4 linked regions of the Homo sapiens genome follow. The protein of the gene in region 1 interacts with the protein of each later gene in a biochemical or structural test. Each region holds a gene or a part of one and is shown on either strand. Other genes may lie near its edges.

Evidence for each region.
Region 2: the proteins of RUNX1 (region 1) and COPRS form a complex in vitro, tested with the Homo sapiens proteins (one study listed by BioGRID).
Region 3: the proteins of RUNX1 (region 1) and DTX2 form a complex in vitro, tested with the Homo sapiens proteins (2 studies listed by BioGRID, with this or other methods).
Region 4: the proteins of RUNX1 (region 1) and USP10 form a complex in vitro, tested with the Homo sapiens proteins (one study listed by BioGRID).

What each region holds. Positions count from the first base shown.
Region 1 is NC_000021.9:34,828,948-34,837,001, forward strand, and holds part of RUNX1 (runt-related transcription factor 1), read right to left. Parts: intron 8,000-8,054; exon of another isoform or gene 7,366-7,999; intron 5,655-7,365; coding exon 5,463-5,654; intron 1-5,462.
Region 2 is NC_000017.11:31,855,749-31,863,747, forward strand, and holds the start of COPRS (coordinator of PRMT5 and differentiation stimulator), read right to left. Parts: upstream 3,497-7,999; 5' UTR 3,452-3,496; coding exon 3,353-3,451; intron 3,215-3,352; exon of another isoform or gene 3,073-3,214; coding exon of another isoform or gene 3,010-3,072; intron 1,118-3,009; coding exon 1,051-1,117; intron 1-1,050. Other genes in the region: UTP6 (U3 small nucleolar RNA-associated protein 6 homolog), read right to left, coding at 7,611-7,768. UniProt on the Homo sapiens protein: Histone-binding protein required for histone H4 methyltransferase activity of PRMT5.
Region 3 is NC_000007.14:76,492,485-76,500,538, forward strand, and holds part of DTX2 (probable E3 ubiquitin-protein ligase DTX2), read left to right. Parts: intron 1-4,852; coding exon 4,853-4,993; intron 4,994-7,956; coding exon 7,957-8,036; intron 8,037-8,054. UniProt on the Homo sapiens protein: Regulator of Notch signaling, a signaling pathway involved in cell-cell communications that regulates a broad spectrum of cell-fate determinations.
Region 4 is NC_000016.10:84,743,946-84,751,999, reverse strand, and holds part of USP10 (ubiquitin carboxyl-terminal hydrolase 10), read right to left. Parts: intron 7,368-8,054; coding exon 6,327-7,367; intron 1-6,326. UniProt on the Homo sapiens protein: Hydrolase that can remove conjugated ubiquitin from target proteins such as p53/TP53, RPS2/us5, RPS3/us3, RPS10/eS10, BECN1, SNX3 and CFTR.

The sequences.
Region 1 (8,054 bases):
AACAGCTAACAGTTTTTGAGTGTTAACCATGGGCTGGCTCTAATGTCCACTGCTTTATGTTTCACAGTGGTCCTAGGATCTGCTAGTATAATTATTACTCGTCTTTTGCAGATAAGAAAACTAAGGCTTTAAAAGGTTAAGTAACTTGCCAAAAGTCCTATAGTGAATGTGGTAGAAACTAAGGTAGTCTGCCTGTTGAGCCCTCATTCTTTCTTAGCCACTATGATCTGCTATCTTTCTTGGCTATTAGATTCCCAGCTCAAGCCTTCTGATATGTAGCCATCAATATCAAATACATGCTCCAACTACAACTTTGCTGAAACTATTAATCTTCCAAATGAAACCTTTTAGTGCATGGGTGTGCTGGCCTACATATTTACAAGCATAAGGGGAAAGTTCAGAACATATGCAGTCTACAGAAGAAATATTTCATCACTAAGATCAAGCCCTGCAGTGAATCTCTGCAGTCATCCCACTGGTTTTCATTTCTTCTCTCTCTCTCCCTTCTTTCCTTTAATTATTTTTATTTATTCCTGTGAACACCTGATTCAGGCTTGTTGTCGGGGTAAGATTATAATGCTATAGACCTGGAAAGGCTCTCATACCCTACTACACCTTGTTAAAAGCTATTTTTAAATGAAATCATTCACCTGTCATGTTTATAGCCTATTATATAAATTAATTTCTCACATTCTGAATATGTTACTTTGTGTAACCATTAAATGACCATTTATAGATTCACATATGAGGATTTCTGGTGTTTGATTGTAGCCTCCACTTTCAAGGTAATCAAATAGTCCCTACTCCCTTTGTTTTCAAACTTCAAATTGCTAGAAGAGTAAGGAAGAGAGGGAAGGAGAGGGAGAGAGAAAGGAAAGCAATGCAATGCAGTTGGATATTTTACCTCCAAGGCTGGAAAGAGGATTTATCTCCTTCTCCTACAGGAAGGTGGAAAGGTTTTCTTCCTTTTGTCTATCCAGATGATAAAGAGAGAATCAGACGGACTTAAATAACTCTATACAACTGAGAAACAGGGTCATTTCAGTATCTCAGAGTTTTGCAGACAGCAGCACCAGAATATAGTCCTTCCTAAGTAACTTTAATTTTGGGGGAAAATAATTAGCAAGACAGAAGTTACTTGGAATACTAAAAATCAAGAGATGATTTGAGAGGTCAGGGACCCCTCTTGGCCATATGGAACACTCAAAGTGAGGCACGCATACTCATAAAAGTGGATTAGATGTTGACTGGGTTTGGATGATAAGCACTTGGTCCCAATGAACTTCAAAAGTAGGAAGGCAATGGCCCCAATAAAGTAAACAGAGTGGCTGGTAAGCCTTCTCCCTGCTCATATACCCCCTCTTTCACTCTTATTTAGAGATTCATTATTCTGAGTTTTCTTTTCTCCCAAACTTTATAAACAAATGCACATGTACCAAAGGAGACAGTTTATTAAGGTGCCCACCACACAGCCTGGCCCCAAAATTCTTCTTATTATCAACATCTAATTATAATAGAACATGTTCAATACAAGAATGCCAAGTGAGTGGATAGCCCAACACTTTTTCCATCCCTCCTTTGGTGATTGGGATTCTTCTCGACACTGGTCAGCCCTGTAGTAAATCGATCCTTGACCCAAGAGTGCACGCCCAGGGAACGGCCATCCCACTTGCACTGGCTTTGTAGCAAGGAAGGTCTGGGTTTGCGTCCAAGTTCATCACTTACAATCTTTGAGATACTGGGCAATTTTTAACCTCTGAATTTCGATTTCTCTGTCTATAAATGATACCACAGGATTGTTGAGGGAATGGAATAATATGTACAAATGTCTGACCCACGTCAAAATAGCTCACAACTGGTCCAGTTAAAGAGTTAAATCTTCTTCCTACATGCTTATGACAACCAGCATGCAGAAGAACAACAAAATGGGCTTCCTAGTTTATCTAGGTTTCAGTTTTCTGTACCAGCATCTATTACTCCATCCTCATATTCCCAGAAAGGAGGAAATTACGACACCTTAAATGTGATACATCATATTTGGTCAATCAGGGGTGAAATTTTAAAATCACTCACTCGGGTTGCCCAAACCCATCTCTAGGTGGGAGTTGTGACTGAACAGGCATCGGTACCACTAGCTCTAGAATCTGCCCTGTTCTATCTTTTGAAATAAATTAAAAAAGAATTCTAAGACTCGATCGTAGAAGTTAATGATGGTGTCCTGACTGGGAGAAACGTGTAGCCCAAGGGTCTACTCATGACAAAATGGCTTTCTATTCTATTTCATGACAAAATGGCTTTACCAGTTTAAGACCTGGTAAAATAGGAAGTTGAAATAAACCTCAGCCCTTTAATAGTTAAGACCCCAACAAATAAACAGTGGTTTAGTGGCATGACAACTTGCCCCCTCTCAATCTGTACCGTGCTTCAGATAATTTGAGATGTCTATTTTGAGTGACCCTCCAGCACATGTGATTCTAGGTAAGTATTGGTGCTATTCTATATCAGTATTTTCTTGCTGACAGAGTCAGAGGAGCTGGCATAACCCTTCTGACAAAGTCCTAGCAAGGTAGGGTTCCTGAGCCTTTCTATAAATCCCGGCAAGCTCGCCAAACCCCCGGTTACTGACATTTCTGTAAAGCTGAAAAACATTCATGCATCTGGACAGCACCACTGTGGAACTACTCTGACAAATTGGATATTTTTCTGAAAACTACCACTGCCATTTCAAAGAAAGCCAGAAACACATGCTGTATTTCTTAAAGTATCTTCGTAAATATAACATAGAAATTTCAGGGCTGAGCCTGGAAAATAAGCATTTTCCTACTGTCAAGAACAAACTGAAGGTCTTGGCTGAACAAGACTTGCATATTATACCTGTTAACTTTCCAATTTCAAGAGAAAAAGCCCAAGGGTCTACTCAAAACATGATTAGCGTAAAACAGCGTTTTCTTATAGGAAAGAAAGAACAAAAGGAAAAGGAAAAGTTGTTTCACATGAAAATATTCTGGATACTTATTTTTTAAAAGTTGTTCCTAAAATTTTACAAGTGAAGTACTGAATATCAAATTCATATTTTGGAAAGAAAGAACACCAGCAATATAGTTCACACATTCTTTAGAGTAGCAACCAAGCCCGTAGGAACTCTAAAAGCGAGTTATGATTTCTTAAATGTTGCAGAAGTAAAAGTTTTCAAGAGGAACAAAAAAGGGGCGATGCTTAGTGTTAAACCTGATACTCTACTAAGCATATAGGTCTCCAAAGAGCTGACGAATGCCCATCACACGGTCCACAATAATGCTTTTGCCCAGGAGCTTCAGAGGATGAGAACTCAATGTGCAACTTCCCCCCATTTTTTTGTTTTTGTTGTTAAAGAGGCATATCTGATGAAGAAGGAAATCAGATTAGATTCACTCTTCACCAAGAAACAGAGCAACTCAATGGTGACAATATCAATTTTCCCCCATGTGGCTGAATTTTCCATTGCCTTTAAAAATGCTTAAGACTTTTTGTTCCCATATCAGCAGAAAAAGGCAAATCCCTTAATCAACCTAGTAGTATAAATGGCCAGTTAGGCAACGAGAGACTAAGAAAACAGTCTTCCTTTTGATTTTACACATGAATAGATGATGTGAATTAGTTTTCTGAAGATTATGTGAATTAGTTTAAATGACCTTAAAGGCAAGATGAAAGAATCTCCTTGAGAGTTGTATCCTCTTTGGAAGCAAAGTATTGTTTTGCCCCAAGCCCATCTCGCTCACTGAACATACCATTTGACTTAATTTACCATATACGCTTGTATTTTGGAATTTAAAAAAAATCAATGTACACATTTTAAATCATTATTAATGATTATTATGTAACAGGAAACCAGTGGTTTCATGGATCCTCTTCCTAAATACACCTAAATGAACCTATAGATGACAGGCAGCCCCCCAAAACATCAAGCTTTAGGTTTCTGTTTGTTTACAAAAGGGTTACTCCACAGACAGGCCACTTAGCTGTGTGCATAGTATCTTCTGGAAAGATTTATTTGGAAATTTTCCAATCAAGTAGAAGAACCTTCCCCAGAAACCTAACAGTGAGAGCTAATGGCATGGGCTGTCAAGCTCCATGGGAGACAGTGGGCATGCCTTTTGAGAACCCATGTTTTTGTTTGTTTGTTTGTTTGTTTTTTGAGATGGAGTCTCGCTCTGTTGCCCAGGCTGGAGTGCAGTGGTGCAATCTCGGCTTACTGCAACCTCCAACCTCCCGGGTTCACACCATTCTCCTGCCTCAGCCTCCTGAGTAGCTGGGACTACAGGCACCCGCCACCATGCCTGCCTAATTTTTTGTATTTTTAGTAGAGTTGGGGTTTCACCATGTTAGCCAGGATGGTCTCCATCTCCTGACCTCGTGATCCGCCCGCCTTGGCCTCCCAAAGTGCTGGGATTACACGTGTGAGCCACCGCGCCCGGCCTGAGAACCCATGTTTGAACCCAAAATAGAGAGCTACTGGCCTGGAAACCCAAAGGAACAGATGATATTTGTACATCCCACAATACAACTCACATACAGAAAATGCCTGGGGAAGCTAATTCCTGCTGTCCGAGAGGGGCAAAGAGCTACCACATCGATTGCTGGCCACCTGCCCTTTTCCCCAGATGTGTTGCTTATCTTTTCCTTAACAAGCCTGCTACTTTGAGAAAGAAATATTACTGTAAACCATATCACACACAGCTGCATCCTGCATGGCACAGAGAAAAGTCTGCATTTTGGATTTTTGAAACGGTATCACAGAGCAAACAGTCATTGACGTCACTGGTCTACAGTGTAAATGAACTTCTTGTATTATCTAATTTGGCACAGTGGGCCTTAGGCAATTATTGCATCTTACAGCGCTTTAGTAATTGCCAGCTAGCCCCATGGGCTGGGGGGACCTGCATTCTCTATTGATTTGCAAATAACACCCTTGATGTGATGACATCCATACATTTCAACTATTTCTTAATAATAAAAAAACACTAGATACAAAACCCACAAATAATCTGGCAATAGCGAGAACTTGAAACATCCCATCTTCACTTTGCTTGACGTGTGTGTGTGTGTGTGTCTGCGTGTGTGTCTTCAAGCCTAATGGGTAGGTAAAAAAATAGCATAGCCAAAGCTAACTCTTAAAAAATTCAAGAGAGCTATCTATCCAATATGGATATCCATACCCAGAGCTCCTCGTATCCTCTGTAGCAGTGCTTTTCCTTGTGGGGATCTGGTTACAATGCAGATCTGACTCGGTGGGTCTGGGGTGGGTGGGGCCCAAGACTCTGCATTTCCAACAGCTCCCAGGTGGTGCTGTTGGTTCGAGGCCTTTCTCTGAGCATCAAGGGGAAACCCCAGTTGGTCTGGGAAGGTGTGTGCACATGGGGGCCAGTTGTGGGTGGTGGCCCAGGTGCAGGAGAGGCGGGCAGTGGGCTCCATCTGGTACTTACCCTGCATCTGACTCTGAGGCTGAGGGTTAAAGGCAGTGGAGTGGTTCAGGGAGGCACGAGGGTTGGGCGTGGGGGCTGGGTGGTGTGGGCTGACCCTCATGGCTGTGCGCCGCAGCTGCTCCAGTTCACTGAGCCGCTCGGAAAAGGACAAGCTCCCGGGCTTGGTCTGATCATCTAGTTTCTGCCGATGTCCTATTGTGGGGAGCAGGGAGGGGAGGGGATGGGGGGAGGGAAGGAGGGAGGGAAGAGATCAGAAAAAGTATTGTGGATTTCCTAAAACTGGGGCTTTTCTTGTCTTTCCCCTCTCTCTCCCCTCACCCCAACATAGACTCGCTAGAGATATGCCAGCTGAATTTGGGGCCACTGTCCTCTCAGCAGAATGGGCCCCCTTTCACCGCCTCGGCCACAGAGTGCTCCCCCAGTCTGGGCCTTGGCACCCTCCCCAACCCTCTACACCCACTTCCAATGGGCACAACTCACTGAGATACAGAACTTGGCGGTGGTGGTGATGCCGGGAGGGAAAGAGGCGCATTAATTGTTGGCACATGGCCACATGCCAGGGGCTATGCTGTGGCAGCCAGGAAAGGTGGCCTCCCAGGGGCATCAGAACGGCTGTTCCTTACTGCAAACCCAGCCACTGGCACGTTTTAGAGGCGGCAAAGTGGGCCCCGCAGCTTAGTGGTAGGGCCCCTTCCAAGAGGAAATGAGGCGTGGCTGCAAACCCACAGCCTCTGGGGAGGTCCCATTTCCAGGTACACGCAGGGCATCCTCAGCCCCTCAGCCCCTCTCCCTCTCCCTCTCCTCACAGGCTTTTCACAAGCATTCCTTCTTCCCTGAAGCCGACTCCCCCATGTACCCCTAAGGAGGAGTTGACAGGAAGGCCTCGCCTGTGTCTTGTCCAATATTCCCAGCAGAATAGGCCCACTGGAGCCCAGAGGTAGCTACAGCCTATCTGGTGAGCTTCCCCAGGGGGCTCAGGACTGGTGGGATGGGATGATGGGCCCCTCAGTGTCTATATAGGGTGGGATGGTGGGCCCCTCAGTGTCTATATAGATAGCAAGTGTCCTCATCATGCTCTTCACCAAAACAACCGTCACCAGGAAGCAGCAAGCAGAGGCCACTCATGGGGGACTGGGGCCTACGGTTTTCTCAAAATGTCCTTAAACCAGAGCCAGTCCTGTCGTGCAAAGCTGAGGCTCCAAGGTAGGGAGGTAGCCACAGGAGGCCTGGGCCATTCATTTCTCTTTTAAAGACAATGGCCTCCTGCTGCTTCCTCAGCCTTATGGTTCCAATAAAGAGTCCTTGATCGATTGCACAACCTCTGTTCCCTATTGCCAAATGTCCCCAAAGCCAGACTGAGAAACAGCCTGCCCGCTGCCCCCATAAAGTGCTATTTCACATGCCCTGACCCAATCCTAGACTAGAAAGAGGCCCCCTTGATTCCACTCCCGCAGCCTGGGGTAAGAGCAGACCACGAGAAGTGCACTGTAGTCCAGCTCCCAATGGCTACAATTATAAAATTAAATGGTATAACTTGCATGATGGCTGCAAATCTCCATGGCTGGCCATTTCTTCCTGCTGCCAGGCCCCTTGGCACAGTTGACATTGTCTCAAATTCCAGACCAGAAAAAAAGGGCCCACTATATTGCAGTGATTTTATCATTAACGAGACCTGTTTGGCTCCAAAATGAGGAAAAACACTTAAGCATAATATTTATGTAGTTCAAATGCAATGGCCCCTCTTGTCATGTGTCACCAAGGCAAATCTGGACTCTGATTCAGCGCTCCAGCCCACAACAGGAGACTTGAACGCAAACAGCCTGAGTCACGCAGGCTCAGCATGCATGTGGGAGGCCTGTTCTTGGCTGCGTATTTTAAGCACCGGCTTTGTGGATGAAAGGCCATGGGGCCAGGTCTTGCAGCAACCCCCATCATCCCTTTCCCTCAGAAGTATGAAAATGTCTTTTTTCTAGAGCGCTCTGTGTTGGTCAGCCATGGTGTGACTCAGTGCCTCTGGATGAAGCCTTCCTTAGCTCCTCCCTCCTCTTATCTCTGCCATAGATCCTTGGCTTCCTGATGATCAAACTGAAAAATCTGCAGTTTTCTTGCAGAAAAACAAACAATTCCAATGGAACAACCATTCAAAACATAATAACTCAGCCCTTTAACCTCCTACCACAGTCTAATGCCTGGCATTACGAGTTGGGGTAAAGAAGAAGGCAGGAACAATGATTGTGGAGAGCTCTATCTGCCTCAGAAATAATGCCAGTCGGCAAAGGCTGCCGGCAGGTTTTGTGCTCATTTCAAAACTTCACATTCCTCAGGCACTTAGTGGCATTTTTGAAGAACACTGTGTCAAGGACAGTGGGTGACCCAGGAGAGTGATGTGAGCGAGGTCATTCTGAATACACAGCACTTGACGTGGTAGAGTCTACAGCCACAGCTTGGAAAAACAGCTCTTGGCAGTTGTGTCTCTCTTAGCCAGCAAGCGTGGGGACCTGTGCCACGGAGACACCCAACAGGAATCATCATTCCAGGTAAGCCAGTCCTGTGGTCAGGCACAACGTGAGGTATTTTTTGTTTGTTTGTTTC
Region 2 (7,999 bases), on another chromosome or scaffold:
ACTCTGAGAGGCTGAGGCAGATGGATCAGGTGAGGTCAGGAGTTCGAGACCAGCCTGGCTAACATGGTGAAACCCCATCTCTACTAAAAATACAAAAATTAGCTGGGCATGGTGGCATATGCCTGTAATCCAGCTACTTGGGAGGCTGAGGTAGGAGAATGCTTGAATCCAGGAGGCAGAGGTTGCAGTGAGCCAAGATTGTGCCATTGCACTCCAGCCTGGGCAACAAGAGCAAAACTCCCTCTCAAAAAAAAAAAAAAACGGCAGGGGGCTGGGCACAGTGGCTCATGCCTTTGTAATCCCAGCACTTTGGGAGCGTGGGCTCACAGTAATCCCAGCACTTTGGGAGGCCTAGGTGGGCAGATCACTTGAGATCAGGAGTTCGAGACCAGCCTGGCCAACATAGTAAAACCCCATAGCTACTAAAAATACAAAAGTTAGCTGGGTGTGGTGGCGCGTGCCTGTAGTTCCAGCTACTCGGGAGGCTGAGGCAGGAGAATTGCTTTAACCTGGGAAGCGGAGGTTGCGGTGAGCTGACATCGTGCCACTGTACTCCAGCCTGGTGACACAGCGAGACTCCGTTTCAAAAAAAAAAGATATTTTGAGAGAGAACACATTCACGTAACTTTCAGTATACTGGCATAATTGTTCTATATTACTATTGTTATTAATCACATATGCATAATTTATAAGTTAAACCATATCAGAAATAGTATATATAGGAGGAAAAAAAAGCAGTTTCAGGCATCCATTGGGGCGGGGGGGTCTTAGAATGTATCCCCTAGGAATAAGGTGAGACTGCTGTACTATTTTCACCGTTTCAAGCTGTTTCTCTCGGTAGAAGGATGGATTTGAACATAAGAAAAGTTCAGGACTTCCCTTAAGGAAGCTCCAAGCAAGGCTTCCAAAGGAGGTTACTGTTCAACTGGGCAGAGAAGGCCACTAAGCAGCAGAGAGGACTGGCTAAAAGAGAAGGTAAATGAGACAGAGGGACTATTCCTCTCCTCACATCCTTGGTCTCCCCAACTTCCGTCTCTGCCATCTACTTGCCTAGTCGATCCATAGCCTTCTCAGTCTCTCTCTCCTGACTGGAGTGGTCAGCTGTAGCAAAGCCAGCCTGCAGGAAGAAGAAATGATTACCAAGGACTTGGGTATCTGGGGTATGCCCAGTATTCAGCTATTGCATCTCAACCCCACCCACTCTTCCATACTCCCCTTGGTGATGCAGGGCTGGGACTCTGCCACCCACATTTCTACTTTGCCCTGTTAAACTGAGCAAGGCTGGAGGGAGATGGGCCTTGTTCCTTCCTATTCATGTAGGCATCACCTCATGACACTTCACCGTGGCAGCAGGAATGCCTTCCTATAGTGGCCACAGAATCCAGTATACAGTTCTGCGAACTCTTGCAGAGCCAGTCTTATCACTGCACCTTCTCTTTAGAGGTCTGGGTCTCAGGACTCTCCTCCAAGCTCAGAGACCCCCTACCATCAGCTGGGGCAGTGCCTTCTCCTTAAAGGTTGGAATTTCAGCTCTGCAGAGCCTTTTCCCTAAGCTTTTAAATTTTAATCAACTTCATCTCTTTGTTCCTTCAGCCATAGGTTGGTAGCTGTTCCCTGCGGTTGCCACCCCCAGGTACACGTTTTACCTTTTCAGTTACTTAACAACTTTATAGCTAGTAAACAACTCTATCAAATTCTCTGTTTCCTCACCAACACACTGAGGTGGGGGAAGCTTTATAATTCCTCTGCAATGCTGAGCACTGAAGGCAGTATTTCTAATCTAACTGAAAATCTTCCCGCACAGCCAACCAAATGCTTCTCTGCTCCCATCACTCAGAAGTTCCTGAAACCCTATGACCTCCAAGACCTCTTTCTAATGAATCACGAAATGTTCCCTGCCTGCATAAAAGACCTGATTTTGATCCCAGCTCTGCCATCCATTCAGAGTGTGACCTTGAACACATCACTTCAATTACTGTGCCTGAGTTTTCTTCTCCAGAAATTAGGGGTGACTGTTCTGACCCTGCAGGGGACTTATGATTAGACACCATTTATGAAAACACCTGGCATGTGGCAAGAATGTAACATTTCTTGAATTTAAATTCATCTTTTCTGCTACATCTAAACTGTACTCGGCACCTGCTCCAATCAGCATTCATTATCTAGTCATGTCTGGGTTTAATAATTCAGTTCCACTCCCTGTAGTTAGTGACAACCTCTGGTCACTGCCGCCCAAGGAGAAGTCAGACCTCTCACCTAAACCACTGCCACGGCCTCCTAACCACCTTCCCATCCAGCCATCTGGCCCAGCCTTACAGAATTAATCACTACTCTGCTCAAAACCTTCAACAGCCCTCCACTGAGAGAGCACAAAATTAGCCATGGCATTCGCACGTCCCCTCTTCTCCCACTCCCATCAACCTGTTGAGCATAGTTCTCTGCATGCTCTGAGACCCAACTCCAGGCCATGTGCCCTGCACTTTCTCATCTCCACGCCTCTGCAGACACCACCAGCCTCTCACCTTGATCCTTTCCTGCTATGCCCTGACAAAATTAGTCCCATTCTATTCTGCACTCCAAAGTAATTTTCTTTGTAAGTGTCGCTGCATTTTTCATATCTTACTTTGGCTAAGTACCATCTTTGAGGCATCATTCATCCAGTCGGTATGTCTATCTCCTGTGCCAGGCACTATGCTAGGCTGTGCAAACAGCCCTAACAGAGGGTTCCTACCTTCAAGCCGCTCAGCACCTAGCCGGTACAGACTGTAAACAAGGACAGGTAAGAACTGTAATAACGGTCTGTAACGTTCTCGGGAAAACCAGGAGCTGTCTAGCTTACATGAAAACAAGTTTCTGGAAACCCTGCGTCAAACAGGGCCTTTCTGGTTTCAGTAAGGAGAAGGGGGAGCGCGCATGTGACATCTGGGGCTCAGGGTTAGCTGGCATCCCCACCAACGGACAGAGGTCCACAGGTCTGTAAAGTCAAGTCCCTCTCCTCGCCGCCCTCACCTGGCCCTCGCCCAGGCTCCTGGCAGCGGGCCCCGGCTCTCGGTCACCAGCGTCACCTCCCATTTACCAAATCCGCAGCGGCGCCCAGCGGGCGGACAGCCGTCTCTGCTGACCCAGAGCGCCCACCCACGCCCTCGGCTTTCCCCGCCCCGCAGCCCCGCGGCCCCGCGGCCTGGCCGTTTTCAGCTCGAGCGCGAGCCCAAACAGCGCTCCGTGTCGCGGGGCGGCCCGAGGCCGGCCAGAGGCGCTTCCCCGGCCCCGCGGCCCCCGCCCAGCCCGGCCCCGCGACTTCCCGCCCCAGGCTGCGGCTGGCTGTTGCTCCTGGCCCCCACGCGGCGCTCACCTCCGGGCTGGGGGGCGCCCCCCGCGCGCTAGGCAGCGGCGGGCCCCGAGACGGCTCCGCGGCCCCCTGCGCCTGGGCCCCGGCGGCCTGAAGGTCCATGCCCTGCGGCCCGCGGCTGGTCGCCCTGGACGCCGTGGGCCACGTGACGCGCCGGCCCGGCTGCCCGCCCGAGGATCCGCCGCAGAAGCGCCAATCAGCCTGGGGAGGGGGTGGGTACCGGCCAAGAGGGCGGGGCGCGGGGGTGTCACGAGCAAGCGGGGGCGGGGCGGCGCAGGGGGCGGGGCGCGCGGCCTCGCGGAGCCCGCCCCTCCCTCCCAGCGCGAAATCTGAAACAATCTCGGAGACGGATTTTGGAAACTCCTCTCGGTGCATATCCTAAGGCTGCACGACTAGCTGCGTGTGAAACGCCAAGCGTACCCTACTCGGCCACTCGGGGTGTGCTCCAGCTTCAAAACCCCGCGTGGGTAAGACACATGAGCAACCCAGTGACCTCCACCTTGAGCTAATGATCGTCTTTGAAGTTAATCCATTAGAAACCAAGATAGATGATTAAGACACAAACTGCAATATGCAGTGGACACAGAATACAGGCCACGACGCTTACTCATAATAATCCTGAACATTCGGGATTCCTGTATTTCCATGCTCAACGCCTGATACCGACAACCTAATTATTTCCCATTTTGCCTCGAAAGGTGGCTTCTGGGGATAGGCAGGGCCTGAGCTGGGAACAGCCCAACTGGAAAGACAGCCTTCCCTGCCTTCCCCACAGTGCCTAACCTCTAATAACAAACCAGCTCAAGGTGTGCTAATCACGTCAACATCAGGACATGAGACCCTCTTCCTTCATCCCCCTCAAAGACTGTGTTGTTTGTACAACACAAAAGGCATTTGAAAAAATTTAGCATAAAACTGACACACAATATTCGATATTATTTTTGTTCTATATGTAGATGTTCCTACACAGGAGTCAGTATCCCCAAGGCTAACTGCCTCTAGGTCAGCAATGTCCAATAGAACGTTCTTTAATGGTGGAAGTGGAAATGAAAGTTCTACTATCTGTACTGTCCAATATAGTAACCATATACCTACTGAGCACTTGAAATGTGGCCAATGTGAATAAATTGAATAATTCTAATAAATTTAAATTGCTACATGTGCCTTGGAGCTACTGTTTCTAACAGTGCAACTCTAGGTGTACTAGCTAGATGTGTTTTCATAACCTGCAATATTGAGAATCAGATACAGGGATGTGATGACCCCAGGTGACCACCCTTATAGCCTTGTGTTAAGGAGACTACCACTATCCTCTTTGCTCCCTAATCTACATATCTCTTTCGTAAAATTAAAGTGCCAAATAAGATTAAGAATGTTAAACATCCCAGGACTTAAGGGACAGGAAAAAGAGGAATTTTTTTCTTATTTTAAAACAAATGACAAGAAAACAGGGGCTGGCCGCGGTGGCTCACTCCTGTAATTCCAGCACTTTGGGAGGCCGAGGCAGGCAGATCACTTGAGGTCAGTTCAAGGCTATCCTGGCCAACATGGTGAAACCCCATCTCTACTAAAAATACAAAAATTAGCCAGGCGTGGTGGCACACACCCATAATCCCAGCTACTCGGGAGGCTGAGGCAGGAGAATCACTTGAGCCCGGGAGGTGGAGGGTGCAGTGAGCAGAGATTGCCCCACAGCACTCCAGCCTGGGCGACAGAGTGAGACTTGGTCTAAAAAAAAAAAAAACCAGAAAGAAAAAGAAAACAGTACAAAAGCTTAAAATAAAAATGTTCTAAAGTAGACTCTAATACTCATAGAAATTTAATATATAATAAAGGTAACATCACAAATCAGCAGAGAGAAACATAACTGCCCAAATAGTGTTGGCAAAATTAACTGCTTGGGGAAAAAGAGTTGTTCTCAGCACCAGGAAGAGCTTCCAAAGCATTTTAAAAACAGACATCACACATACACACACAAAATACCTCTGGGCATCAAAAATCGCCACAAAAGGTGCCTATAATCCCAGCTACTTGGGAGGCTTTGGCAGGGAGAACTGTTTGAACCTAGGAGGCAGAGGTTGCAGTAAGACCACACCACTGCACTCCAGCCTGGACCACAGAGCAAGACTCTGTCTCAAAAAAAAAAAATCACCACAAACAAGGCTGGGGGTAAAATTATTTGCAACAAATGAGAAACAAGATATTAATATTCTGAATATGTTTTTAAAAACTCTGGCCAGGCACAATGGCTCATGCCTATAATACCAGCACTTTGGGAGGTTGAGGTAGGAGGATTGTTTGAGCCCAACTGTTTAAGAGACCAGCCCTGGCAACATAGCAAGACCAGTCTCTACAAAAAAAAATTTAAATTAACCAGGCATGGTGGTGTGCACCTGCAGTCCCAGCTACTCAAGAGGCTGAGGTGGGAGGATCTCTTGAGCCCAGAAGTTAAGGCTGTAGTGAGCCATGATCACACCACTGCACTCTAGCCTAGGTGACAAAGCAAGAACTTGTCCAATTTAAAAAAAAAAATTAACTCATAAATTAGTAAGAAAAAAAATTTTTAAATAGTCTAAGGATGTAAAAAGATGAGAAACATAAAATACACTAACTTCACTAATATCAAAGTATGGTAAAACAATGACATATCACATTTCACCTATAAAATGGTAAAAATAAAAGATATAATTACACCAGTACAGGTAAGGGTACTGACACTTTCATGTATTGCTTGAAAGAAGGAGCAAACCAGCAATACATATCAGTATTCTCTAAAAGCAGTATCCTTTGATCCAGTAATTCCACTGTCGGATGTCAATCTCCTAAGGAAATGGCCAGGGATGTGAACAAAGATTGACAAGAATCTTCATCAACAGCATTTATCTAATTTTTAAAAAAATTAGAAATGACAGTCCAGGCCAGGCTTAGTGGTTCACGCCTGTAATCCCAACACTTTGGGAGGCCAAGGCGGGTGGATCATGAGGTCAGGAGTTCGCAACCAGCCTGGCCAATATGATGAAACCCCCGCACTACTAAAAATACAAAAATTGGCTGGGCGCGGTGGCGGGTGCCTGTAATCCCACCCAGCTGCTCGGGAGGCTGAGCCAGAACCACTTGAACCCGGGAGGTGGAGGTTGCAGTGAGCCGAGATGGAGCCACTGCACTCCAGCCTGGATGACAGAGCAAGGCTCCATCTCAAAAAAAAAAAGACAGTCTAACCAGAGGATTAGTAAAATATATTATGGCTCATTTTTACAATGTAATGTTACGAATTCATTAAATGTTTTTAAGGCTATTTAATGACACAGAAAAACAATACTAAGTGAAACGTAACAATAAGCTACACTGAAAGCTTCTCCCAGTGACAGGATGCTTTTTTTTACCACACTATTCTATTTCCTCCATATTTTCCAGAACAAATGCATACCACGTATCTTTTATAATGAGAATAAACCAACAAAACTGTACTTTCTCCTTTTTTTTTTTCCTTGAGAAGGAGTTTCGCTCTTCTTACCCAGGATGGAGTAGCAATGGCATGATCTCGGCTCACTGCAACCTCCGTCTCCCAGGTTCAAGCAATTCTCCTGCCTCAGCCTCCCAAGCAGCTGGGATTACAGGCACCCACCACCACACCTGGCTAATTTTTGTATTTTTAGTAGAGACGGGGTTTCACCATGTTGGCCAGGCTAGTCTCAAACTCCTGACCTCAGGTGATCCGCCTGCCTCAGCCTTCCCAAAGTGCTGGGATTACAGGCGTTGAGTCACCATGCCTGGCCACTTTCTCCTTCATTTTAACTGGCTCTTAGGTCGAGATTAGAGATACTCATGCTTGACCTGGGATAATTTTAAAAAAACCCAGTCGTATGCTATCCATGTATTTTGGGAAACATTTAGGACCTGTGGAAGATCGGGCCTCAACATTAAATCAGCAATTCTCTTTACTGGAATCAGATTAGCACATCAAACTGAGCAGTGTCATGCACCTATAATCCCAGCTACTCAGGAGTCTGAGGTGAGAAGGTCACTTGAGTCCAGGAGTTCAAGACCAGCCAGGGCAACAGAGCAAGACCCAGTCTCAATCATAAAAATTTTTTAATTTTTAAAAAGATTTAACAAGTTAACATAAAATTAAAGTGTGTCTCAAAACCAGACAGCCATCTTGTCTGCCATCACTGAGCAAATTACAGATGGACTCAATACAAATTTGCCCACGGGGCTTGCTTGCAATACTATTTCACAAAGCTGACTGTATTCTTCATCTTCATAAATGGCCAGTCTGATGCATAGCATGTTTAGCTACAAATGCCTCTGCTGACTCTCCCTGCAACATTTTCATCGCTCGCCAGTAGATCTGTCCACAGTTCTCAGGTCTACCAAGGGGGTGGTTCAATTCTTCTTTCATATAATCCATCCAAAGATCTTTTAAAAAAAAAACATACAATTAGATAACTGACAGAGTGTTATTAGGTAACCTTATTAAATATCAATTCAACTCAAGATTTCTAAGAAACTTAACTTCTCATTGTTACTTCCCTAGGACGCTTTGTTTAACAATACCTCTCTTAGCTTCTTTAAAGTATAGTGGCAGGTTTTGGTTTGTTTTTGTGTGTTTTTTTCTTTTTTGAGACAGGGTCTCACTGTGTTGCCCCG
Region 3 (8,054 bases), on another chromosome or scaffold:
CCTTTTCACATCCTTTAACATTTTTGCATTGAATTGCATTATATTTAAATAGTCACTTTCCTGTCCTGAAATACTTTAAACATTTCCTTAAAGGGGCCCTCTGGGGAATTAATAGATCTATTTCGGCTGTAGTTACTCTTACATCTTGAATAAGAGGCACCTTTTGGGTCCAACCAGATCTTTTGCTGTACTAACCATACATCTTACATCTTGGAACTGTTTTGGGTTTGGTTTGGTTTTTTGTGAGACAAGAGTCTCGCTCTGTCACCCAGGCTGGAGTGCAGTGGCGCTAACCCAGCTCACTGAAGTCTTGAACTCCTGGGCTCAAGCAATCCTTTCACCTTAAGGATCCTTAAAAATACCTACTGCTGGCCCCCACACCCATTCTGTTTTAGCAGCCTGGCTAGCAGGGTTTTCAGAAGCTCCACAGGTGGCAGGATTTTTTTTCTTTTTTCTTTTTTTGAGATGGAGTCTCTCTCGCCCAGGCTGGAGTGCAGTGGTGGGATCTCGGCTCACTGCAACCTCTGCCTCCCAGGTTCAAGCAATTCTCCTGCCTCAGCCTCCCGAGTAGCTGGGATTACAGGTGCATGCCACCACGCCCGGGCAATTTTTGTATTTTTAGTAGAGATGGGGTTTCGCCATGTTGACCAGTCTGGTCTTGAACTCCTGACCTCAAGTGATCCATCCGCCTCGGCCTCCCAAAGTGCTGGGATTACAGGCATGAGCCACCGTGCCTGGCCATTTTTTTTTTCTTGTTATAAGAGACAGGATCTTGCTCTGTTCCCCAGGCTGGTGTGCAGTGGTGTAGTCATAGCTCACTGCAGCCTCCAACCCCTGGGCTGAAGCGATCCTTCTGCCTCAGCCTCCTGAGTAGCTGGGATTACAGACACATGCCACCATGCCAGGGAAGTTTTTTATTTTTTGTAGAGACAGGGTCTCACTATGTTGCCCAGGCTGGTCTTGAACTCCCAGGCTCAAGCCGTCTTCATGCCTTGGCCTCCCAAAGTGCTGGGATTCCAGTCATGAGCTGCCACGCCCAGCTGAGGTTATTTTCTAACTTCTGGAAAGTTCGAGGTATGTAAGGAGGTGGATGGCGCCATCGTTGTTCACAGGGTGATGTGGCGGAATTCAATAATGAGTTGGTGTTTTAGGGGAGTTGCTGTCATAGTGGCTGAGAGGGGACAGGCCTGGAGGTAGGGCGGCTGGTGCAGAGCCTGACCTCAGACCTGGGGGCACCAGCCAAGGCCTGACCAGCTTCGAGGCAGTGGAGTGGAGGGGGAGGTTTGGCTTGAAACATTCAGAGGCATGAGCCGTCAGGCGGGGGGTTGTGAGGGGGGATTGGGGGTAGACTGAGGCCTGCTGGAGTGCAGCCAGTCACAACTGAGGAGCAGCCTGGGGCTTGGCGTGTGTGAATTCATTTCGTCCTTAAATCACTGAGGTGGAGGCTTTTGTTCCCATTTTCATTAGAGGAAACTGAGGCTCGGAGAATTTAAAAATTCTCTGCCAGCCCTTGGCAGAGCTGAGACACAGCCCCGGGCCTTCTTGCCTATGACGGTTCAGTGCTGCTGAGTCTAGGGGGAGGTTGGGAGGGGGTGATGGCTGTGGAGTGGCCGTTGGAGCTGTTCCGGGGCAGTGGGATTTGGCTGTGGGCCTCAGAAGAGCAGTCTTGGGTGGAATGGGGTGCCCCTGACCCCTCGTGGGAGCGTGTGTGCCACAGAGACCGTGGGCAGGACTGAAGAGAAAATGAAGGAGCGGCCAGAGAGGTGGGGGCAGGAGGGAGAGGAGCTGGAGTGGGGCAGGGGAGACAGAATGAGCAAGACACACTGGCCAGAAAGTCCCTGCCCACTGAAGTCACCGTGCGGCGCCGTAGGGAAATCACAGTGTACCGTGTGTGCATGTGCGGCCGTGGTGGCATTGGAGACAGGTTGTGGGTAAACAGACGGGGCCCCCACACGGTTCCTCATGGCCCAGCTCCTTCCAGTTCTGGGGCTCTCGCAAGCCTTCGTGGCCAGGCCTGACAGTGAGCGACCTCTGAGGCCATGACACAGATCTAAGTGCTCTGGGTGTGGAGTTAGCACCTGCCCCCTTCCTCTGCTCTTGAGGCTGAAGGTCCTGTCCAGGCTGTGTCCCAAATTGTCCATCCTGTTGTCTGTCCCCGTTGCTCTCAGAGCAATCCTGGAGCTAAAGCAGGTATTTTAACATCCATTTTACTTGTGGGGAAATAGATTCGGGAAGCTGGTTCAGGCCTAAGGAAATAGGAGAGCCTGGAGGCTGTGTAGACTCCTGCCTCCCCCAATTCAAGGCCCAGTGTTGGTACCTACTGGGGGAGCATTGTCTAGGGGAGCAGGGAATGAGAGGAGCCTGGCCAGCACCCCGGAGCCAGAGCTGGAGAGCAGTGTCCTGTCACCCTGGTGTGCTTGTGGGTTGAGGAATTATACCATGCCCGGCTGCGGAGACGAGCGTTTGCGCACAGGCTTTTTGCAGAGAGGTTTATAACCAGGAGGTCATGCTTTGGAAGGACTGAGTGCTGGAGGCACTGCTTCCAGGTGACAGTGCCTCCAGGTGACAGCTCCCCTGGCTGTGGCATAGCCCAGTCCCTCTATCGGGTGGGGGCAGGGACTGTGAGGCTGGAGCCAGGGTCTCCACCCCTCACCTGGTCACAGCAGCGGTCCATCCACAGCTCACACTGCTGCCTGGGGCAGGGATGGGTGTCAGCAGCCTGCCCAGGACTGCTCAGCTGGTGAGGGCTGGCACTGGGCTCGAACCCAGGCTGGGGAGGTCAGAGCGCACAGAGGAGAGGCTTGGATCTCAGCCCTGGCCCTGGGTGTCAGAAGGAGGGGTGTCTGCAAATTGGAAGTGAGAATCAGTGAGTGGGGGCTTCACTCTTCAGGGCTCTGACAGCGGGAATCCTCCCAGATGGGTGGAGAAAAAGGCTGTGGCCCTCCGAGTTATTCAGGTGTTTTGGGGGCTGTCAGGAGTTTGGGGGGCTGTCCCTAGCCCTCCTCCTCTCCAGGCTTCTGGGTTGAAACTTGTGTGTTTGTGACTTGAATTCAGGGGAGTGGGTCCTGCATTGAAAAGGACACGTGTGTCACTCATGCGGCCTCCTGGGGGCTGGTGGTGGCCCAAGGATGTCTTCATTCCTCAGCAAACACAGAGGGCTGCAGGCTTCCCAGGGATCAGGCACTGCCCCAGCGGGGTGCTGGAGATGCAGCTACGGGTGGGACCTCGTGGAACTCGTGCTGAGGGAAGACAGTCCATAGAAACAGAGGGGAGTGCAAAGCAGGAGTCCAGCAGGGTGGGGCGGGAGGCTTGGAGGGACAGGCCCCGTCAGGCAGTGTTCAGGGAAGGCCTGCCCGCTGAGGCAGTGTTGCCGGAGAACCCTGGGTAGGGAGACGTGTCCTGGCCTTTGGTCCTCCCAGACGACGTGGGCAGCGCAGAGGCACCAGATTCTCTTGAGGAAAACTGCACCTGTCCTTGTCCTCTCTCATCTCTCTGCCACCCGCGCCCGCTTGTCCTTCTCTCCACCCGACATTCAGTTCCCACAGGAACCGCATTTGAGCCCAGGAACAAGCTTGGGATGTTGGGGGCATTGAGCTCCCGGGCTCAAACCTCTGTCCTCTGATGCACGCTTTGGTGTCTCCTGCTGAGGGCCACTGCAACTCACCCTGCCCACCTCGGCTCTGCTGCCCAGGCTGGTGGCTGGTCTCCGCTTCTGTCCCCACAGCCAGGCACATGTGCCGGGTTGAGAAGCTTTGTTCTTCTAGTGGGGGCGCAGTGGCTGGCCTGGCCGCCCTTCACCCCTGAGTCACGCCATCTGTTCCTGGATGGGGAGTGGGGTCCAGGAGGACTGGGATTTCTACCAACTCCCCCGGCAGCCGGCTGTGCCCAGCTCCTGAGCCAGGTTCTGCAGACCCTGGAAGCCACCTTAAGAGATGGCTAAGAAGCTCTAGGCTTCCCCTTTCTCTGGAGAGGAGGTGCTTTTGACCTAACTGACCGATGACAGGGAGGACCGGGGAGCTGGCACTATGGAAAGTGGGGTAGGCCGAGGGTGTGGCAGGAACGGGTTCGTCCAGCAGGACACGCTGTGTCCCAGGAAGCGCTGGGTCATCAGGGAGCACGAAGGAAGCAGTGTCAGAGGAGAGTCCCCCAGGGCAAGTGTGGGGTTCCCTGCAGGCATCCGGCAGTGGTGAGCTCTGGAAAGAGTGGCCGGTCTGTCCCAGCATAGCTGCTGGCCACAGGCCCACCCTTGCCCGAGGGCGCCAGAGCCACAGCCTGGGGCCTTGCTGCAGCCCAGCCCTCACAGTATGGGGATGCTGCAGTGTGGGAGCAGGCCCAGGGGCCACGTTCCTGCCCGCCTACCCCAGCGCTGTCGCTGAAGGCCCTGGCACCCAGATCAGCCAGGAGGGGCATGGAGCACACACAGCACCCAGTGGAGGCTGGAGGCCTAGTAACTCCAAGCCAGGAGGGCCCAGGGCCTCCTGGGGAAGCTGAGCCCTTGGAGCCAGCCCCACCCAGGAGACCCCGTGCCCCGGGCGGCTTCCTGGAGTGGCGTCCTCCGCCCTCTGCTCTCCTGAAGTCACGGGTCCTGCCCCGGTGCCCACCTGCACACTGAGGGCACGGGCTTGTCTGTTGCTCCTATAGAAACCTGTGGGCTCTGGGGCCAGGGCTACCATGAGCCAGGCTGCCCCACCCTCTGATTCCTGGCCTGGGTAGTCCCCAGGGAGACCTGTGCGTCCCCGTGGCCATTGATGGTGTCACATCCTTGGCCTGAGCAGGGTTTGTTGGCGTCACATGCCGAAGGAGTCTTCTAATGTCTCTCCCTCTCTGCGTGTCTGCTCTCACACCCGTGCAGGCATGACGAGTGTTCTGATGTCAGCCATTGGACTCCCTGTGTGTCTTAGCCGCGCACCCCAGCCCACCAGCCCTCCCGCCTCCCGTCTGGCTTCCAAAAGTCACGGCTCAGTTAAGAGATTGAGGAAAATGTCCGTGAAAGGTAGTTCTTGTTCCCAAAAGCTCTCTGGCCTTTGCTAAGCCTCCTTCCGGCCTCGCTGCCTCTGACTCTTCTGCACAGACCCTCTTCCTTCTCTCTGCTCCCTGACTCCTGGGGGAAGGGGCTCAGTGGCCCTTCTCCCTGCCCCCGCTCGGCAGCAGAGGCGGCCCCTGGAAGCTGACTTTCCACCGCAGCCCCAGAGTTCAGCTCCTCTCCTCCAGTCACAGCTGGCATGAGGGGGCTTGTTCTTGAGGACTTTGTGATTTTTGTAAGCAACAAGTTGTGGGTGAGAGGCGGCGCCCGGCTCAGGATGCGGGGACAACCGTCCCTTCCGCCAGGGCCAGCACGTGTCTCGGGAAAGGCCCCCAGACAGCGGCCCAGGTCTGCTGCCCAGGTCTGCTGCCCTGACCCCCAGCCCTGTGTGGCCGCCACGTGGGCTGCTTGAGAGGGGTCCCTCGGTGACCCCTGCCCTGCTCGTTGCATGGCCACAGAAGAAGGGGCTTTAGGACCACAGCAGGTCCAGGGAGTTACAGCAAGACCTGCTCGGAGCAGCCTGTGATGGTCAAGTTCTGAACCTTTCCCAAGCGGGTGCTGGCCCTGCTTCCACCCCTGGGCTGTGGAAGTGTGGACTGTGGCCAGTCCAGACGCTCTTGAGTGGGCGTGGTGGCGGGCAGGGAGGGTGGCCGTGGCCCTGCTGGCCCTCAGTGTCTGTGTCATCTCAGCAGGTCCTCTCGGAGCCTCCGCTTAGCAGAGGGGCTTGGCGAGGTCTAGGAAATACTCGAAGCGCCTGGCATGCGGCAAGGGTGGCTTCCGATCGTGTCCGACCTCCAGCCCACAGGCGAGGAGGTGGGCTCAGGGAGGGGTGGGCCTCGAGCTCCTGCCCCCAGCCCAGGGCTCTGCACGCCCTGCCCTTCCCCTGCCCTGGGGGAGGAGCCAGACTCGTTGGCAGCCCGGGCTGGCAACCTTCTGTGGCACTCGGGTTTACCTGGGAAGGACACGCTCTTGGTGGGTCGCCTGGCTGGCCCCTTCTGAGACACGTGGCTAATGGAAAGCTCCCTTCTGCTCTGAAAAGCTGCAAGGGCTGGGGTGGGTGGGCGGGGGTGGGATGCTGTGCCCGGCCTCACCAGGGCTGGGCAGAGGCGAGGCCCAGGCTCACCCGGAGATGGCTCTGGAGTTGGCAGGCTTTTCCAAAGGAAAAGGCCCCCCTCAGCCTGAGTAGGGCATTCCAGCCACACGGAGGGCGACCCTGAGCTGGGGGCCATCGTTCTGGTCTGGCGTTCTCGCCACCGTGACAGGATTTGGGTTCGGGCAGTCTGTATGGGTGTGTGGAGGTGTGGGGTGTGTGGGGTGTGTAGAGGTGAGGGTGTGTGGGGTGTGTGGAGGTGAGGGTGTGTGGGGTGTGTGGAGGTGTGGGGTGTATGGAGGTGTGGAGTGTGTGTGGAGTGTGTGTGGAGGTGTGGGGTGTATGGAGGTGGGTGTGTGGGGTGTATGGAGGTGTGAGGTGTGTGGAGGGGTGAGGTGTGTAGGGTGTGTAGAAGTGTGGGGTGTGTGAGGTGGGGTGTGAGGTGTGTGGAGGTGGGTGTGTGGAGCTGTGTGTGGTGTGTGGAGGTGTGAGGTGTGTGGAGGTGTGGGGTGTGTGGAGCTGTGTGGGGTGTATGGAGGTGTAGGGTGTGAGGAGGTGTGGAGGTGTGGGGTGTGTGGATGGGGGTTGGGGGGTGTGGTCTTGCCAGCAGTTTCCCTCCAGGTCACAGCAGCCATGCCATCACAGCAATTCCAGCTTGGTTACATATTCGTCTTTCCCGTTTGAGATCAGGGAACCGAGGCTCAGAGGTGGCATGATTCGTTCACAGCAAGAGAACTAGAATTAAACAAACCGTGCCGACTCCAGCCTCCACCCCACCACGCCACCTCCCTGCCAAACTGTCCCCTCCCTGGCCCTTTTTGGTGTAAAGGGAGTTCAGCAGGTGCAGTTGTGAGCCCTCAGGCTTAGAATTCTCTGCAGCCCCTGAAGGCCGTGAGCTTGGATTCAAACCAGAGCCCCTTCTGGTCCTGGAGTCTGGGACGACCGCAGCCCCACCATGACCTTGGGGTGGAGCCCCTGTCAGGAGCGCCTCCACGGGTGGCACTGGGCTCCCCGTCCCTCTTTCACCCCCGCACGGGCTTGGCTGCTGGCTTCTGTGGTTCTGCTACTCCCACTACCTAGAGAACGCCCCGGGCCGCGCCGATCCTCACCAGCTCAGGAGCTTCTTGTCCGTAGGAGAGGCTTTACTGGATGTGGGGTTCGGTGTTTATGGAGATGCAGCCCTTCTCCCTCCAGCTTCGTGCACGTGTGCACAGACAGCGAGTGAGGCCGTCAGGGTGGGCTCCTGCCACGTCTTGGCCCCTCCCCAGAGTCGCTGGACTTAGGAGCTAGTCTGCATGTGACAGACCTTCCCAGTCAGTGGCAGGCGTTTCCCGGGACAGTGTCTGTGTGGCGGTCGGCGTGTGTGCAGCTGCCTGTACATGCTGGACCCCAGACTCCCTTGTCCCTGTGATGTTCATGCCAGGGTAATGCAAGTTGAATCAAATCGTGGTGCCACAACGCCCCCTGGAGTAGTTTGTGCCCGAAGCGGCTGTCTGACTCTTCCGCGCAGCCTCAGAAGCGCCGGGGTCGGTTCCTCACTCAATGTGCGCGGGGATGCGGCTCCCAGGAGACTGTGCTGCTGTTTCTGCTCTTCTGCATCCTCCATGGCTCCTGGGGCTGAGCCGGGTCCCCGGACGGTGGGACTGGGGAAGGCTTTGCCCGACGGAGCTCGGGGCTCTGTGCCTGGCGCTGAGCTCTCCCGTCCCGCACACTGGCCTCCCTGTCTGGGCCCCTCTCGCATTTCCTCCTGGCAGCTTAGACCTCTTCCTTCCCTTCCTCGCCCTCTGGCCTCCTCTCCAGCCTGTGCTCCTCAGGACGCTGCTTATGTACTTCTCTCTTCTAGGAGCGACCCCGAAGCCAGAGCCAGAGCCAGAGCAGGTCATAAAAAACTACACGGAAGAGCTGAAAGTGCCCCCAGATGAGGTTTGTGTCTTGGGACCT
Region 4 (8,054 bases), on another chromosome or scaffold:
CAAGGGCTGCCACAAATCAGCCCACTGAAATTGTTTATCAACTCAAAGGCAATACCAGCATCGTAAACTTTTATGTCATCATAAGCTATGATTATTCTTACACATATTTTACACATCAAATTCTGTTTTCCTAAAATTAGGACTTAGGGGTCATATTAACATTGAAAATCCCTGAAAATGCAAGGTACAGAACTCTGATTCTTAGGGCTCAATAACTGGCCCGTAATCGACATTCTGGTGTTGTTGACCTGCTTTTCTGTCATCATTCTAACTGTCCAGAACATTCTCCAAGTGCTTTTCTTTTCCTCATTACCATCAATTTGGAAGAACACACACTATCTTGGTTATCTAACCAGGTGGAGGACAGCAAAGTGACCAAAATGTACCACTACCCATTGACTACAGATCAACTTATGTTTCTGAAGTGGAAAGATGTATAATAAATGTGAGGCTACAAACATCGAATCAGATGTGGACTAAACTCTCAGTCCACAAGGGTGGATCCCGGTAAACAGGTGCCACGCCTTTTTAACTTAGATCACGCCGCATGACCACTGCCTGTGTACTTCAGAGTTTGAAGAGGAAGTGCAAAATATCTGAGAAACCATTTCCCCCAAGGAGCGGGGGGAAATATATGCATGATTTATAAACTGCCAAAATAAAGATCAGTTTTAGGATACACAGCCATGCTTAATGATGGGGATATGTTCTGAGAAATGTGGCATTAGGCAATTTTGTCATTGTGGGATCACATGCCTAGATGGTATAGCCAACTACACACCTGGGCCATATGCTAGAGCCTATTGCTCCTAAGCTACAAACCCGTACAGCATGTTGTGTACTGAATACCGTAGGCAACTGTAACACAACTCACTGGTCACTAGAAATTGTTTAGCTCCATTATAATCTTATGGGACCACTGTCGTACATGCGGTCTGTTGTTGACTGAAACATCATTAAAGCAGCACATAACTGTATGTTCATTTACACTTAAATAAACACGGACAGGGTAATTCATTAGAGAAGACCCAAATTGTAATAACTTTGTTTCTTGATCCAATGCCTTTTAGGTATAAAACCACTGTGAAAAATCATATAAACAGGTTTTGACTAACAATTCATAATAAATGACATTGCTAGATACCTCAACGCAATGTTTTCAGAGCTGTTCAAGAGCTCAGTTTTCCTAGTTCTCTCTCACTGGAATTTTAACTTATCGGGCAGTTGGCCACTCTTCTTACCCAGCATTATTTATATTCTGTTAAAACAAAATATACTGTTGCATAATTTTGAAAGCAAAACATCAAATACAAAATGGCTCTATTTGTGATGTGAAAGCATCTGATACAATTTCGTCTAGTATATGAGGAATGTTCCTTAGTAAAGACCCAGGAAAAGTACAATGTTCAATGAAAGCATACGTTCAATTTCAAACGTCACATGTTCGTCAACTCCAAAGTATCTGTGCTAATGAGGGAAGCAGCAGCAAAGGCACTCCCCACGTGTCTGCCATACTCACTCTTAACAAGGGTGTCGCGTTTTGCAACTACTTTCAAACACAAGCTATTAAGTTTTGGGTTTTTTTTTTTTTTTTTGAGACAGTCTCACTCTGTGGCCCAGGCTGGAGTGCAGTGGCACGATCTGGGCTCACTGAACCTCCACCTCCCCGGTTCAAGCTATTCTCCTGACACAGCCTCCTCAGTAGCTAGGATTACAGCCATGAGCCACCACGTCCATCTAATTTTTTTATTTTTAGTAAAGATGGGATTTCCCTATGTTGGCCAGGCTGGTCTTGAACTCCTGGCCTCAAGGGATCCACCCACCTCAACCTCCGAAAGTGCTGGGATTACAGGCGTGAGCCACTGTGCCGGGCTGTATTAAGTTTCCTTTTGTTGACTCCTACTGATAAATGGCAACCATCTCCTCTCAGACCAGTCACTGAAACACAGATCCCTCTCCAACCCTCGGCAAGACAGGGCTTTTGTGTTTAGATACATCCTTCCCTTGGGGCTAAAGGAAATCACTGAGTATTCAGTTCACACGCTCTCCCCTGGCGTGTCCTTCTCCTTTCAAATAACAGTTCACACTTGAAAAACAGCCAATGGAACAAAATGTTGACACATAACCTACACCGAGGAGATGGCCTTGCCACCAAGAAGGTCCAAGTAGAACCCGTTAAAGTGGATAGTTTAAGAGTAATCAAGAGTTTAATGTATTTCACTTCAAAATCCCTTATACGTGATTCTTTTAGTCCATCTGCCTTCTTAATTTCACTTCTGATGGCATAAAAACTAGCTGGCATTTATTAAGCAGACTTAACAATAGGGGAAATAGTCCAGAAATGTGAGTATTTGAAACAAACTTGAGATAAAAAATACACAAATTATTCCAAGCATTTTGTGTGTGTATAATTTTTTTTTTTTTTAAAGATGGGGTCTCAGTATGTTGCCCAGGCTGGCCTCGAACTCCCGGGCTCAAGTTATCGAGCCTCAAGCCTCAATCTCCACACTATCATGCCTGGCAGAAAGGAATACATTTAATGTCTAAATCATTCCCTACTCCCTCTTTCCCAAAAGTTAATAACACAAATACCACTGTCTCAGTAGAAACAGTTAGATACTAATGCAAGTCAAACTCTATTATAACCCACATCAACAGATCTTTTAATGAAACTAGACTTTCACTCAGTTAAACGCTGCTTAAAATAAGTGGGCCTACACTTAAAAGTGTGCCCACTAAAGGGAATTTGTGGTAGTGGATCTGACTTGTAACAAACTGAGTATGTTTTACCACTTTTATAAAGTAAATCCCTAAGTAGGAGAATAAAACAACAAAAAAAATTTCAAACAATGCCATTCTCCCTAAGCCCTATATGATCCCAAGGGTTATTCAATGTGACTCTATTGCTCTACTATCTCACGAGACTCCTGAAACTGTCAACAACTACGTTCTGTCTATCGAAGCCTCAACAAACAGGCTGAAAAGAATTATATATTTTTAAAGAAACTACACTTTTGCTCAGAAAATTAAAACATCTTCATAACTGACCTAACCAAATAGGATTAAAAAAATAATCTGTTTGGTAGGGGTTTACAATATGTCCACACAAAAATAATTACGTGGACTGTGTGTGGCAAGGCTTTCCTCTACTACCAGTCATTAAGAGGCCCTTACTTTCAGTGTTTGACAAAGCTACTTCAATTAGACTTTAACATATACAGAACATAACAAACTATTTATCAAACTATATTTAAAGTCATATGACTAAGTAGAATGTTCTAAAACATTTTAAATGAAGCTTTTCTTGGTTATTTTAAATAAAGATAGAGAAAATCTCCCTAAGATGGGAGGTTTTCCTTTGTGGAGCAATTTTAGAAACGAAACTATAATATTCTCAGCTGGGCGCGGTGGCTCACGCCTGTAATCTCAGCACTTTGAGAGGCTGAGGCAGGAGGATCACTTGAGGTCAGGAGCTCAAGACCAGCCTGGCCAACATGGTGAAACTCGGTCTCTACTAAAAATACAAAAATTAGCCTGGCGTGGTGCCAGGCACCTGTAGTCCCAGCTACTAGGGAGGCTGAGGCAGGAGAATTGCCTGAACCCAGGAGGAGAAGGTTGCAGTGAGCCGAGATTGCGCCACTGCATTCCGGCCTGGGCGACAGAGTGAGACCCCCTCTCAAAAATAAAGAAAAGAAAATAAAATTCTCATGACTTCGAACTTAGAATGCACATTTTTAACAGGACCCCACCATGCATTTCTCATTATAGGTTAAAAATAAACTTTTAACTTAGTAATCTATATAAAGGCTTACACAATCTATCTTTTTTTTTTTTTTTTTTTTTTTTGAGATGGAGTCTGGCTCTGTCGCCCAGGCTGGAGTGCACTGGCGCCATCTCGGCTCACTGCAAGCTCCGCCTCCCAGGTTCACGCCATTCTCCTGTCTCAGCCTCCTGAGTAGCTGGGACTACAGGCGCCCGCCACCACGCCTGGCTGATTTTTAGGTTTTTTTTAGTAGAGACGGGGTTTCACCGTGTTAGCCAGGATGGTCTCGATCTCCTGACCTTGTCATCCACCTACAGTATCAGTCCTTGCAATAAATACATTCTGAAAGCTGTATTCAAGAAATCGCCTGGCCTGAGTGCGGTGGCCCACACCTGGAATCCCAACACTTTGGGAGGCTGAAGCGAGCAGATCACTTGAGGTCAGGAGTTTGAGGCCAGCCTGGGCAGCATGGTGAAACCCCATTTCTACTAAAAATACAAAAAAAGATAGCCAGACATTGTGGCATGTGCCTGTAATCCCAGCTACTTGGGAGGCCGAGGCAGGAGAATCACTTGAACCCAGGAGGCGGAGGTTGTAGTGAGCCAAGATCGTGCCTCCTGCACTACAGCCTGAGCAACAGAGTGAGACTGCATCTCAAAAAAAAAAAAAAAAAAAAAAAAAATCACCTGGCTTTAAAAAATATATATGAAGCCCAAAATAACGACGTCTGGCCTATCATTTGCTCATTTAAGAGAACTTCAGAACAACAAGAGTACCTGAGATAATGTATTTTGTATAAGGAATAAAATACTCTTAAAAATATATATACATTGCTTGCTATCACCCTATTGCCACCCAAAGAATGTGTTTTATTTTTTACACAATTCTGACCATCCATCGAAGGGTGTGCATTTGGCAGCTTGCTGCTACATCCTGGTAATGAAGGGTGTCAGGTGTTCCAAAAGGTCACATCAGAAAGTATTACAGAAAGCCTAAACCAAACAGCTTATTTTAACTTGGCTACTAGGGTGACAATCTGAAGATCTGGTCACCAGGCTTGGTGGAATCCAACCTGATGACACAGCTTCTGCTTCTTAGGTACGTACAGTCACGCGCGGCGTAACATTTCGGTCAACAATGAGCCGCACGTATGATGGTCCCACAAGATTCTAGTGGAACTGAAACGTCCTGCCGCCTAGTGGCGTCTTGATGCTCCTGACCCTGTGCAGGCCCAGGCTAATGTTTGTGTCTTACTTTTTAAGTTTAAAAAGTTAAAAACAATTTTTAATATGAAAAAGCTTATAGGAAAGTAAGAATAAAAAGGAAGAAAATATTTTTGTATAGCTGTAGTGTGTGTTTTAAGCTAAATGTTCTCATGAAAGAGTCAAAAAGTTTAGAATTTTTAATTTAAAAGTAAAATAAAACGTAAAAAAGTTACAGTAGGTTAAGGTTAATTTCTTATTGAGGAAAAATTTGTAAATCAACGTAGTACAGCCTAAGTGTTGACTGTTTATAAAACTCGGCTTTGCTCAGTACTGTCCTGGGCCTTCACATTCACTCAGCACTCATCACTGACCCATCCAGAGCCACTCCAGTCTTGCAAGCTCCATTCACGGTGAGTGCTCTATACAGGTGAAGCACTTTTCATCCTTTATACCATATCTGTACTATATTTTTTCTATGTCTAAATGTGTTCAGGCACACAAATACTTAGCACTGTGTTACAACTGCCTACAGTATTCAGTAGTAACACGCTGGACAGGTTTGCAGCCCGGGAGTAATAGGCTGCACCACCAGCCTAAGGCTCTACCACCTGTATTTGTGTAGTACTCTCTGATGTTAACACGCACATCTCGGAACACATATCCATCTTAGTTAAGCAACACGTGGCTATGTGAGGACACATACCTCTTTCATACCCTGCTGCATTTCTGACTTCCTACTGTAACTTTTTAAAAACAATCTGTGAATTATGCAGCTTTCTATTTTTATTGTGAATTGTTTCTACTTTGGAGCCTTAGCACTCTAAAATAAAACATTAACTTTGGGCTGAACCCTTAACATTTTTTTTCTCTTCAAGAGCTGACCTTGGTGTATCAAAATTCTGAATAAAATCCATTTACTCAATCCAAAAAAAAAAAACCATGTTATTTCACAAAATGATTTCTTGTATCTTAAGAAATATAAAAAAGGAGCACACAGTGAGTACAAATCAGGATTATCATACCAAAGGTATATCACAGAAAAAGTCCATTATACATTCATACCGTGGAGCAGAATTACTTGAACAAAAGGCAAGAAATGGAAATGTAACTTGTCAACAGAAAAGAACTGCTAACAGACATGGATCTTTCACTTAACATAAAGTTACGACAACCCTCTCCTCCCATTTGTTTCTATATTATCTTACTTTTAGAGAACATTTAAGACATAGGCATCCTTCAGACGTTGCTATTAACACACAGGTAATCTGCCATTGTTATGGGTAACACCACAGTCTATAAGCCCAGTTGATGAGGTCTGCTCCCATCTTCACTCTAGATTTGTATCTTTTCAACTATACCTGCAATCTTTATGGCTACAGGATCCTCTGAAACCGGAACAAGCCCTTCTTTGACTTCAACCTGCTTTTCAGAAACCAGGGGAGATATGGCGGGAGGGGAATACTTAGTTTCCACATAGGCCACCGGCGAGGAGGAAGAGGGCTTAGAATCATGAAAGAGGCTGGCCCAGGACTTGGGCTGGCTGACAGGAAGGGTGCCTGATGCAGAGCCCGTGCCGTCAGCAGGAGGTGATGCACTCTCGGGTTTGGTTGGGTCCAAGTCTATGCTTTCCGTGGTGTGCAACTCCACCCCGTTGGTAGCTGTGCCCTCACCCGAGGATTCAAGTATTTGTCCATTAGCAACTCCAAGGTTTTCAGTAGTATCGGTACCAACGCAGGGCTGAGCCCCAGCTGTCCTTGACAGGGTGTCTCTGCCAGCCTCTGCAGGGAAGCAGGACTGACCAAAATCAGCCCCGGGGCCCCCCTCTGGCTGCCCTGCAGTCCTGGTGTCACTGCCGAGTGCTCCGGGGAAAGGACTGTCAGGCACAATGTCACTGACAGAGTCTGTGGAGTTCTGGGGGCTGTTACAAGTCCTGGGCGTAACTGACGGGGGCATGTCACCCATAAATTCTGCATCCTCTGCACTGACACTGTTCGGGACTGCTGAATTGGCATGGCCATTGACCAGGGCTTCTGTGGAGATACTATCATCGCCACCATCTTTCAAATAGCTGTAATATCCAGGTGGCCGCTTTTTCTTCTTTTTACGCTCCCTTTGTCCAAGACCACCTGAGACACCATCATTTTCCAAAACTTCCGCCTCCACATTAGAACTTCCATCCAAAGCGAGGGCAGAGCCTGGGTACTGGCAGTCGATGGAGCCATAGCTTGCTTCTTTAGTGATACCATCAGGGGTTATTTTGGAAGCTGTACAACCGAGAATAAATTCAGGGGCCTGAGGGTTCAGTGTGCTTGAAATACTGTAGCTGGGGGTTCTCGGCAAAGTGTCACTGGGTTCAATGACTTCATCGACACCAAACTCAATTCTCTGATATTCTTGTCCTGTTTAGAAAGAAAACTATTAGTTAAGAACCCAGTTCTACAAACTCTAAGTACCAGTAATTACTCACTTTCTCTTTGAAAATAAAAACCTTAAGTTCTCTTCCTAATCAACAAATCTATTACGTCCTTTACTTACGCTGAACAATTTGCGGAAAATGAAACAACTATAAAATTATTATTTAATTTGGGGATATGAAAAGCAGAAGCCTGTACTTATCTTTCTAGCTAAGGAAGGCTTTCAGAAGGTAGAAATTAAAATAAATTTGTAATAAAAAGCAAGTAATATTTTGCCAATTTTAAAAATACCCCCCAGTGGAATCTGACTTTCTTATAGCTGCCTTATGCCTGAGATAAAGGAATATGTATTTTGGACAACTTAAATTTTAAAAGATCATGACAACTAACTTAGGGACTTAAAACATGGTTAAATCAGCTTCTGTAGTTAACGTGATTTGATTAATTCCAAAAACATGAACTACGCAAAGAATCCTATACATACTGGATAGGAGAAATTAGAAAGTATAAATTTAAAAACAAAAAAAAAAGATGTCAAAAAAAGATTCAACAACAACAACAACAACAACAAAGAATCCTATATATAAAAGCGCACTTCAGAGCACTCTTCTGAATTCTCTATCTCTTGGTCTCCTCCGCTGGTAACCTTCAATTAAGTCTGAAAAATGGCCC